Regions from separate parts of the Homo sapiens genome. Here region 2 is linked to region 1. Evidence: fine-mapped expression QTL. A gene starts in region 1. The other region holds a variant in brackets. All regions are shown on one strand. Distances are between the middles of the regions.

What was found. PIP is the estimated chance that this variant, and not a neighbour inherited with it, causes the effect. A credible set is the group of variants that fine-mapping cannot tell apart.
Region 2: its variant is the best candidate, but not a certain one, in a credible set for the expression of ANKLE2 in lymphoblastoid cells (GEUVADIS, PIP 0.61).

What each region holds. Positions count from the first base shown.
Region 1 is chr12:132,759,260-132,763,647 of GRCh38, reverse strand. ANKLE2 (ankyrin repeat and LEM domain containing 2) reads left to right here and starts at 1,816. Exons shown (of 13, transcript NM_015114.3): 1 at 1,816-2,030. The coding sequence starts at 1,850. RefSeq lists enhancers at 1,148-1,247, 1,602-2,470 and silencers at 1,398-1,687, 1,778-2,367.
Region 2 is chr12:132,650,455-132,654,842 of GRCh38, reverse strand. The region is part of intron 29 of POLE (DNA polymerase epsilon, catalytic subunit); the gene reads left to right. Among named protein-coding and RNA genes, the nearest start is that of P2RX2, 34 kb to the right of the region's middle. The variant G/AAG (reference allele first, on the strand shown) is at 2,529.

The DNA of each region.
Region 1 (4,388 bases):
GCCTCCCGGGTTCACACCATTCTCTTGCCTCAGCCTCCCGAGTAGCTGGGACTACAGGTGCCTTCCAGCATGCCCGGCTAATTTTTTGTATTTTTTAGTAGAGACTGGGTTTCACCGTGTTAGCCAGGATGGTCTCGATCTCCTGACCTCGTGATCTGCCCGCCTCGGCCTCCCAAAGTGCTGGGATTACAGGCGTGAGCCACCACGCCCGGCCAAGGGGGGTTAGGGTTTCAACATACGAACGCTGGGGACAGACACTCAGAATACAGCAGAGGTGTACGTTTAACTTTGAAAGAAACTGCCTCACTATTTTCCAAGGTGGTTAACTCAGTGTTTGCTCTTGCCAGCAAAATTTGATATTGCCAATTTTTAAATTTTAGCCATTCTGGTGGATTTCAAGCAGCATCTCATCGTGGTTTGAATTTCCATTTCATCCATCTTCAAAATTACTGACCCTTTCTTCTGTAGTGCCCAACCAACCATTAGTACCATCCAATGATATTTTTTAAGAGATGGGGTCTTGCTATGTTGGTCAGGCTGGCGTGCAGTGGCTATTCACAGGCGAGATCACGCTCATGGCAGCCTCGAACTCCCGGACTGAAACTACCATCACCCCTCACGCTCCAGAGTTGCTGAGACTACAGACCTGAGCCACCTCGCTCAGATCAATTATGTTTTTAACCAAGGATATCAATTATATTTTTCAGGTCTTTCATTTTCATTTAATAATATCTAAATTAGGCGGGGCGCGGTGGCTCACGCCTGTAATCCCAGCACTTTGGGAGGCCGAGGCTGGTGGATCACTTGACATCAAGAATTCGAGACCAGTCTGGCCAACATGAGGAAACCCCGTCTCTACTAAACATGCAAAAATTAGCCAGGCGTGGTGGTGGGCACCTGTAATCCCAGCTACTTGGGAGGCTGAGGCAGGAGAATCGCTTGAGCCCAGGAGGCGGAGGCTGCAGTGAGCCGAGATCGCGCCACTGCACTTCAGCCTGGGCGACAGAGCAAGACACCGCATCAAAAAATAAATAAAACATCTAAATTACATACAGTAAAATCCTCCTTCCCTTTTTCGAGACAGGGTCTCACTATTAGGTTGGTGCAAAAGTAATTGCGGCTTTTACCATGACTTTCAAAATATTTGCCCGGGCTGGTCTCGAGCTCCCGGGCCGTGGGGATCCTCCCGCCTCGCCTCCCAAGGCGCTGGGACTCCGGACGCAGCCGCCGCGCCCGGCAAAATCCGCGCTTTCAACTGCGCGTCAGGGCCCCTTGGTGAAGGAGCGGGAAGCTCCGCCGGTCTCCATAGCGCCGGCGGCCTGTTCTGCGGGTTCGCGGGGGAGTGAGAGGCGCTTCCTCACTCCTGCTCCAGGACGGGACGACGGCCGCAAACAGTACTCGGGCTCGGAGCACACGAACCCGGAGGCCGCTTCGTTCTCGGAGACGCACAGCGCCCCACGGACGCCAGGCCGGGGCCGGGAGGCGCGAAGAAGCGCCGCCCCGCGCCCGGCCCCGCCCTGGTGGCCTCCCCGGGCCCCAGCCCCGGCCCCCGCCAGCACATTGCGCTCCCCGCGCCTCGCCGGTCCCAGGACCCCGCGTCGGGCTGCCCGCGCCCCGCCTGCCGCGCCCGCCCGTCCGCTCGCCCGTTCCCGCCCGCTTGGGTCCCAGGGCCGGGGCCGCGCCCTCGCCGGGCCTCCGCGAGCGGGGCCGCCGTCCGTGTCCCCCGCGCCGCCCCGGCCGCCTCGAGCGCGGCGCCGTCAGGCAGGGCGCGGGCAGCCCGGCGCGGGGTCCTGGGACGGGCGCGGCGCGGGGCGCGGGCTTCTCGGCGGCTGCGGCCCGGGCGGCGGCGATGCTGTGGCCGCGGCTGGCGGCGGCCGAGTGGGCGGCGCTGGCCTGGGAGCTGCTGGGCGCCTCGGTGCTGCTGATCGCTGTGCGGTGGCTGGTGCGGCGGCTGGGCCCGCGGCCGGGAGGTCTGGGCCGCAGCGGGACCCCAGTTCCTCCGCCAAGCGCGGCCGCCGCCCCCGCCTCAGGTAAGGCCCAGGCGGTCGCTGGGTCCCCGCACCCTGGCCCCTTCCCCGCCCCGACGCCCTCCTCGGGCCTGGGGTCCCGGCCGCGCCCCTGGAGCCGGCAGCAGTTGGGCGAGGCGGCCGGGGAAACCAGGGCCGGTCGGGAAAGGCCATTCCGGCCGCGGAAAGGGCAGTTGCGGGGACTTGGCTTCCCGGGCCGGGGGCGGAGGGGCCACGCCGGGTTCGGGGGTGAGAGCTTTCCCGGGCCCTGGAGCAGCCTCCGGGGAAGGCGGCGGGGGCCCGGCGAGGCGTTAGCGGAGACTCTTGCTGCGGTCTCTCGAGACCTGGGGAGGGATGGCCCAAAGGAGGGCGGCGCGGGGAGGAAACCCCTGGGTCCCGGATGTGTTTGGAACGTGAAGCCATTGCGGTTACTGGTCATGGAACATAAGGCAGAGACGGAAAAGGCAAATGTAACTCAGGGGTTTGGGGCCAGAGGAAGAGGGAGAAGGTGGCCATTTATTGCTTTGCGGTAGACTGTCGGGTCTGGGTGATGTGGAGATCAGAGGTGGGTTTTGGTCGTTTTAAGTTTGAGGTAACTGATACAGTGAACTGTGTATTTCAGCTCCATCCCCTTTTCCTGGCATACAACTCTTGAAATCCCGGGAACCTCCAAAGTGATGTCTTTTGTAGGCTGAGTGGACTGGTGGCCGGCAGCCCCTAGGGAGCTTCTGGATGGGGCTGGTCGCAGGAAAGACCAAGGCAGGGTTAGAGGTTCTGGGGACTTTCAGCCCCACCCCCAACCTCTGGGGAGGAGAGAGGGGTGAAGGTTGCGTTGATCACCAGTGGCTGATGAATCACGCCTGTGAAATGAAGTTCCTGTAAAAACCCAAAAGGGCTGGGTTCAGGGAGCTTCCAGATAGTACGTGGGGGTTCCTGGAGGCGGTGCCCAGAGAGGCCCTGAATTTCCAAGCGCTTCCCCCCGGTTTTACGTCACGCATCTCTTCACCTGTATTCTTTGTAATCCTTTATACTCTGCTGGTAAGTGTAAGTAAAACATGTCTGTGAGTTCGGGAGCCACTCTAGCAAATTACCGCAACCTGAGGAGGTCACCGGGTTACGCCCCGTCGGTCCCAAGCGCAGGTCAAACAACCTGGGCACTGGAAGTGGGGGGCAGTCTTGCGGGGCTGAGCCGTTAACCTGTGGGGGTCTGCTGGTATCTCCAGGAAGACGCTGTCAGAATAGATGACTGAATTAGGATGACAGACGACACCCAGCCTGTGTCCACTGCAGAACTGACGACCTGCGTGATTTGTGGGGAGAAAATCCCCACATACCTGGTGTCCGAAGCATGTTGCAAGACTAGTGGGAGAAACTGAGTTTGTTTTTACTCTAAATTGTCAGACTGTTAGTCACTGCGGAGAGGTGCTTTCTGATGATTGAGTGGGGATTCCTGTCCAATTGTGTGAGTTTGTGTCTCGGCCCTACCACTTTTTTTTTTTTTTTTTTTTGAAATGTAGTCTCGCCCTGTGGCCCAGGCTGGAGTGCAGTGGCGCGATCTCGGCTCACTGCAAGCTCCGCCTCCCGGGTTCAAGCGATTCTCCTGCATCAGCCTCCCGAGTAGCTGGGATTACAGGCGCCTGCCACCACGCCCGGCTAATTTTTGTATTTTTAATAGAGACGGGGTTTCACCATGTTGGCCAGGATGGTCTCGAATTCCTGACCTCAGGTGATCCACCTGCCTCAGCTTCCCAAAATGCTGGGATTACAGGTGTGAGCCATCGCACCGGGCCCTACCACTTATTGCTGTGGGCTTAACCTGTTTTCAGCCTGCTCTTTTAGGAATGGGGATGATAGTGATACCTGGTTAGGCTTTTTTGGGAGTTGGGTAAGTGCAGCACTTGGTATGTGTTAAGCACCTCTGAGTGCTGTTACTGTCACCAGCGGCATCATCCAGGCAGAGCTGCGGACAAGGTGGCGGCGGGTGAGGGTGGTGTTTTGAGAATGGCTGAAATAAAAAAATACTGATTTATTTTATATAAAAATATGTTTTTATATATGATGTATAATATACGTATATCATGGCATATGATACGTGTATATCATATAGCACATATAGTATACATATATATAGTCAGCAGAGATTTAGAGAAACTGGGCCTCGTGCATTGCAGGTGGGGACGGTAAGTGGTGCAGCTACTCTGGGAATCAGCCTGGCAGGTTTTTAGGAAGTTAAACCTGCCCTGCATTCCTGAGCTTTTATTAGACAAATGAAAACTATTTTCACACAAAAACCCATATTTAATGTTCATAGCAACTTTATTTGTAATTACCAGAAACTGAAATAACTCAAATGGTTAAACTTGCACACTGATACCCCGGGGT
Region 2 (4,388 bases), 110 kb after region 1:
TTGTTCTTTGAAAAGACTTAGGAAAATAGTCACATCTTTTTCTTTTCTTTTGAGACAGGGTCTCATTGTGTCACCCAGGCTGGAGTACAGTGGCGCAGTCATGGCTCACTGCAGCCTTGACCTCCCAGGCTCAATTGATCCACCTGCCTCAGCCTCCTGCATAGCTGGGACTATAGGCGCACACCACCACATCCAGCTAATTTTTGTAATTTTTTGTAGAGACAAGGTTTTGTCATGTTGTCCTGGCTGGTCACATCTTTTTCAGGACAGAGTTTTTTATTTTAATGAAAACAGACATCATTATAGATATAGTAAAGCCTAAAAAAATGGAAGGATTCCCATTTTCTGCTAAACAGTTGGAAAACATAGATGGAACGGACAGTATCCTCAAGTTATGCACTGACCTAAGAAGTAATAAAAACCTGAATAGAACTTTAACCATTACAGAAATTGACACTTAAAAAGAAACAGGCCAGGCGCAGTGGCTCACACCTGTAATCCCAGCTCTCAGGGAGGCAGAGGCGGGAGGATAGCTTGAGCCCAGGAGTTCGAGACCTGCCTGGGCAATATAGCGAGACCCCGTTCTCCACAAAAAGAAAAAAAAAAGAGACGAAAAAAAATAAGTGTAAAAGAAACATCAAACCCAAATGATTTTTAAGAGAAAAAGGAAAAAAAAAACCCTTAGCTCATTTGGTAACCTTGGCAATCCTTGTTACTTTGGTAACATAATTGAAAACAGGAAAGGAAAGTTACGGGCCATGAACAATAGATGAAAAAATATCAACATACATGAACAATAACAATATGACCAACTAGGACTTATGCTGGGAATAGCAAGCACTGTTTAATTTTAGAATTTGCCAGGTTAGTTTTTCTTGGGAGAAATCCACTAATTCATCATTAAAGGAGAAGGCTCGTAAGATCATCTCCAATAGATGCAGAAACAACATGCGGTAAAACTTTAACATCTGCTCATGTTAAAGTTTGAACAATCAAAATCAGAATAGATGAGATGTTTCTTAACCTGATAAAGTGTTCTTGAAACCTAACAGCAGACCTCATACTTAACCACAAAACACTGGAAGCATTGAAGTAAGGAGTAAGAAATGGATGCCTGTTAACCACTGCTTCTGTTCAAAACAGTTTGGAGATCCTAGCCAGCATAATTAAACCAGAAAAAGAATTAAGGATTGAAAAGGGAGACATCAACTTATTATTTACAGGCGATGTAATTTGTTAACAGAAAATGTAAGGAAACCTAGATTTTGTGTTAACTTATATGTATTTCAGCAACAATTAGATACCAAGGTAAGATATAAAAGTCTATTGCTTTCATTTATACTAGAAACAAAATATTTTTTGAAAGATACCATTTACAATAGCAATAAATAATGTACTAAGGAATAAATTCATGGTAACAATGTGTGTAAGACTTTTACAGAAAAAATTACACAACTTTTTTCTTTTTGAGACATGGTCTTCCTTTGTCACCCAGGCTAGAGTGCGGTGGCAAGATCATGGCTCCCTACAGCCTAGAACTCTTAATCTCACGTTATCCTCCCACCTCAGCCTCCTGAGTAGCTGAGACTGCAAGTGTGCACCACCACACCTGGCTATGTATTTTTTGTAGAGGCTGGGTCTCACTGTTGCCCAGGCTGATCTTAAACTCTTGGGCTCAAGTGATCCTCCTGCCTGGGCCCCCCCCAAAGCACTGGGATTACAGGTGTGAGCCACCATGCCTGGCCTATACACAACTTTATTGAACATATAAAAATTTACCTAAGTAACAAAAAGAGGTACCATCTTTACAGATGAAAGGACTCAGTATTAAAATATGGCAGTTTGCCCCATATTAATTCATAAAATTCAGTGTAATTCCAATAAAAAAGAATCTGCCAAAAGCTTTTTGGATAGAACTTGACAGACGAATCCTAAAATTCATATAAAGGGTAAGGATAAGAATAACCAAAGAATTTTGAAGAATAAGGAGGGCACGTTGATCTTACTATGTAACGAGACACACTATCATGGCATCTTGACAAGATGAGAGGAGAGCAGTAGAGCCGATTGGGAGCCTAGAAACAGACTCCCCTGTTAGTCGGAAGTTGGTAGGTCACAGATCGTTAAGGAGAGAGTGGACTGCAGTGAGTGATGCTGGTGAAAATGGTTTTTCATATTTGGAGAAGTAAGTTGTTGTATCACACTGAGTGTGAAACTAAGGCTGAGTGTGATGGCTCATGCCTGTAATTGCAGTGCTTTGGGAGTCCAAGGAAGGAGGATCAGTTGAGCCCAGAAGTTCCAGACGAGCCTGGGCAACATAGGGAGGTCTCGTCTCTACAAAAAAAATCCGGCACAACATTAGGCATGGTTGTGCATGCCTGTAGTCCCAGCTACTTGGGAGGCTGAGGTGGGAGGATCACTTGAGCCTGGGAGGTTGAGGCTGCGGTGAGCCAAGATGACCACTGCACTCCAGCCTAGGTGACAGAGCGAGACCCCTGTGTCTTTAAAAAAAAAAAAAAAAAAAAAAA[G/AAG]GAAACTACAATCTTTGGTAAACAACTCAGGAGACTATGATGCTGGGGTGGGAAGGGCTTTTTTAAGGCACATGTGAAAAACATCACAAAGGGAAAGAATGATCAATTAATTAAAAGTTAAATCTTGTGTAGTCTGTGACAAGAAAGGCAGAATGTTGATAATTGTTGACACTGGTGATAAGAACATGGGAGCTCATTACTGTGCTTTCGTGTATGTTTGAAAACTTTCCTGATAGGAAGTCAACACACACAAACTTACATGTAGCACAGAAGTCACCATGAAACAAAGGCCTGAGTCACATTTTGAAGATGTTTAGAATGTATAAAAGTTAGAAATGGCTCATAAACGTGTTAGCTATCTATTGCTGCATAGCAAGTAACCCCAAAACTTAGCAACTTAAATGCACTCGTGTATCCGAGGGCTCCACTGGAGAAGGAGCCACTTCCGAGCTCCCTCCCATGGGGATGGCAGGACTCGGTTCCTCCTTGGCCTTTGTCTGGACGTTATCCTTAGTCCCCTGCTCCATGGGGCTCTTCACAGGACAGCTCACAGCATGGCACTGGACTTTTGAGAGAGTGCCAGCCAGGCAGAAGCCACAGTGTTTTATAGCTGCTCTCAGGAGTGGCATTCCATGACTTTTGCTGGAATCTGTTCATTACGGGCAAGTCACCGGGTCCCACCCCCACTCAGGGAAGGAGTCACACAGGGTGTGAACACCAGGAAGTGGGGGTCGTTGGGCCATTTTGGGAGCTGCCTGCACAGGGCCAAGATGTTCAGCCTTACTGTTGATGAGGTAAATGCAGCATGATGTATTTAGATAGCAGGTCACACTGAAGGCAAGTAAGTGTGGTGGCATCAAGTAGCAAGATTGTGGGAAGTAGGAAATCCCTGGTGCTAGAGGTGGAGGTGGTTGTTCTCCGGGACCAGGCAACACATACAGAGATGGTCATTGAGTCACAGTTTGTAGTTTTGAAAAAGTAGGCGCTTGTCATTCTTCATTTGCAAAGTCATGGGTAGGTAGGCTGATGTGTTTATATGATAAATCATTTCACATCAGTTACAATGAACGAACCATATGTGCATGTTTCACCCGGTGTCAGTCTCAAAAATACATGGCTGAATAAAGAAACAAGTTGCAGGGACAGGCATGTGGCTCACGCCTGTAATCTCAACACTTTGGAAGGCTGAGGTGGGTGGATCACTTGAGGTCAGGAGTTCGAGACCAGCCTGGCCAACATGGTGAAACCCCATCTTTACTAAAAATACAACAAAAAATTAGCCGGGCTTGGTGGCAGGTGCCTGTAATCCTAGCTTCTTGGGAGGCTGAGGCAGAATTGCTTGAACCCAGGAGGCGAGGTTGCAGTGAGATGAGATCGTGCCATTGCGCTCCAGCCTGGACAACAGAGTGAGATTCTGTCTCAAAAAAAAAAAAAAAAAAAAAGGAAACAAGTTGCAGTCAGATGTGTCCCACATGTTACTATTTAGGTTAAAACTTACAGCTGTGGCATGTGTCTGTGGACATGTGGTAAAAATTTAAAGGTGTGTGGGGGCAGACAGAAGAGGGCTGTACCCATTATTTGCAATATTTTCTTTCTTACAAAAAGCATTCTGGAGCAAACATGGCAAAATGCAAAGATTTACTTATTGGTGGTATTGAGTGACGTTTTATTTTTCGGTTTGATCTTTTCACTTTTTTTTTGAAAGAGGGTCTCACCCTCTCGCCCAGGCTGGAATGCAGTGGCGCAACCTTGGCTCACTGCAACCCCTACCTCCTAGGCTCAAGTGATCCTTCCACCTCAGCCTCCCAAGTAGCTGGGACCACAGGCCCACACAACCACACCCAGCTAATTTTTCTATTT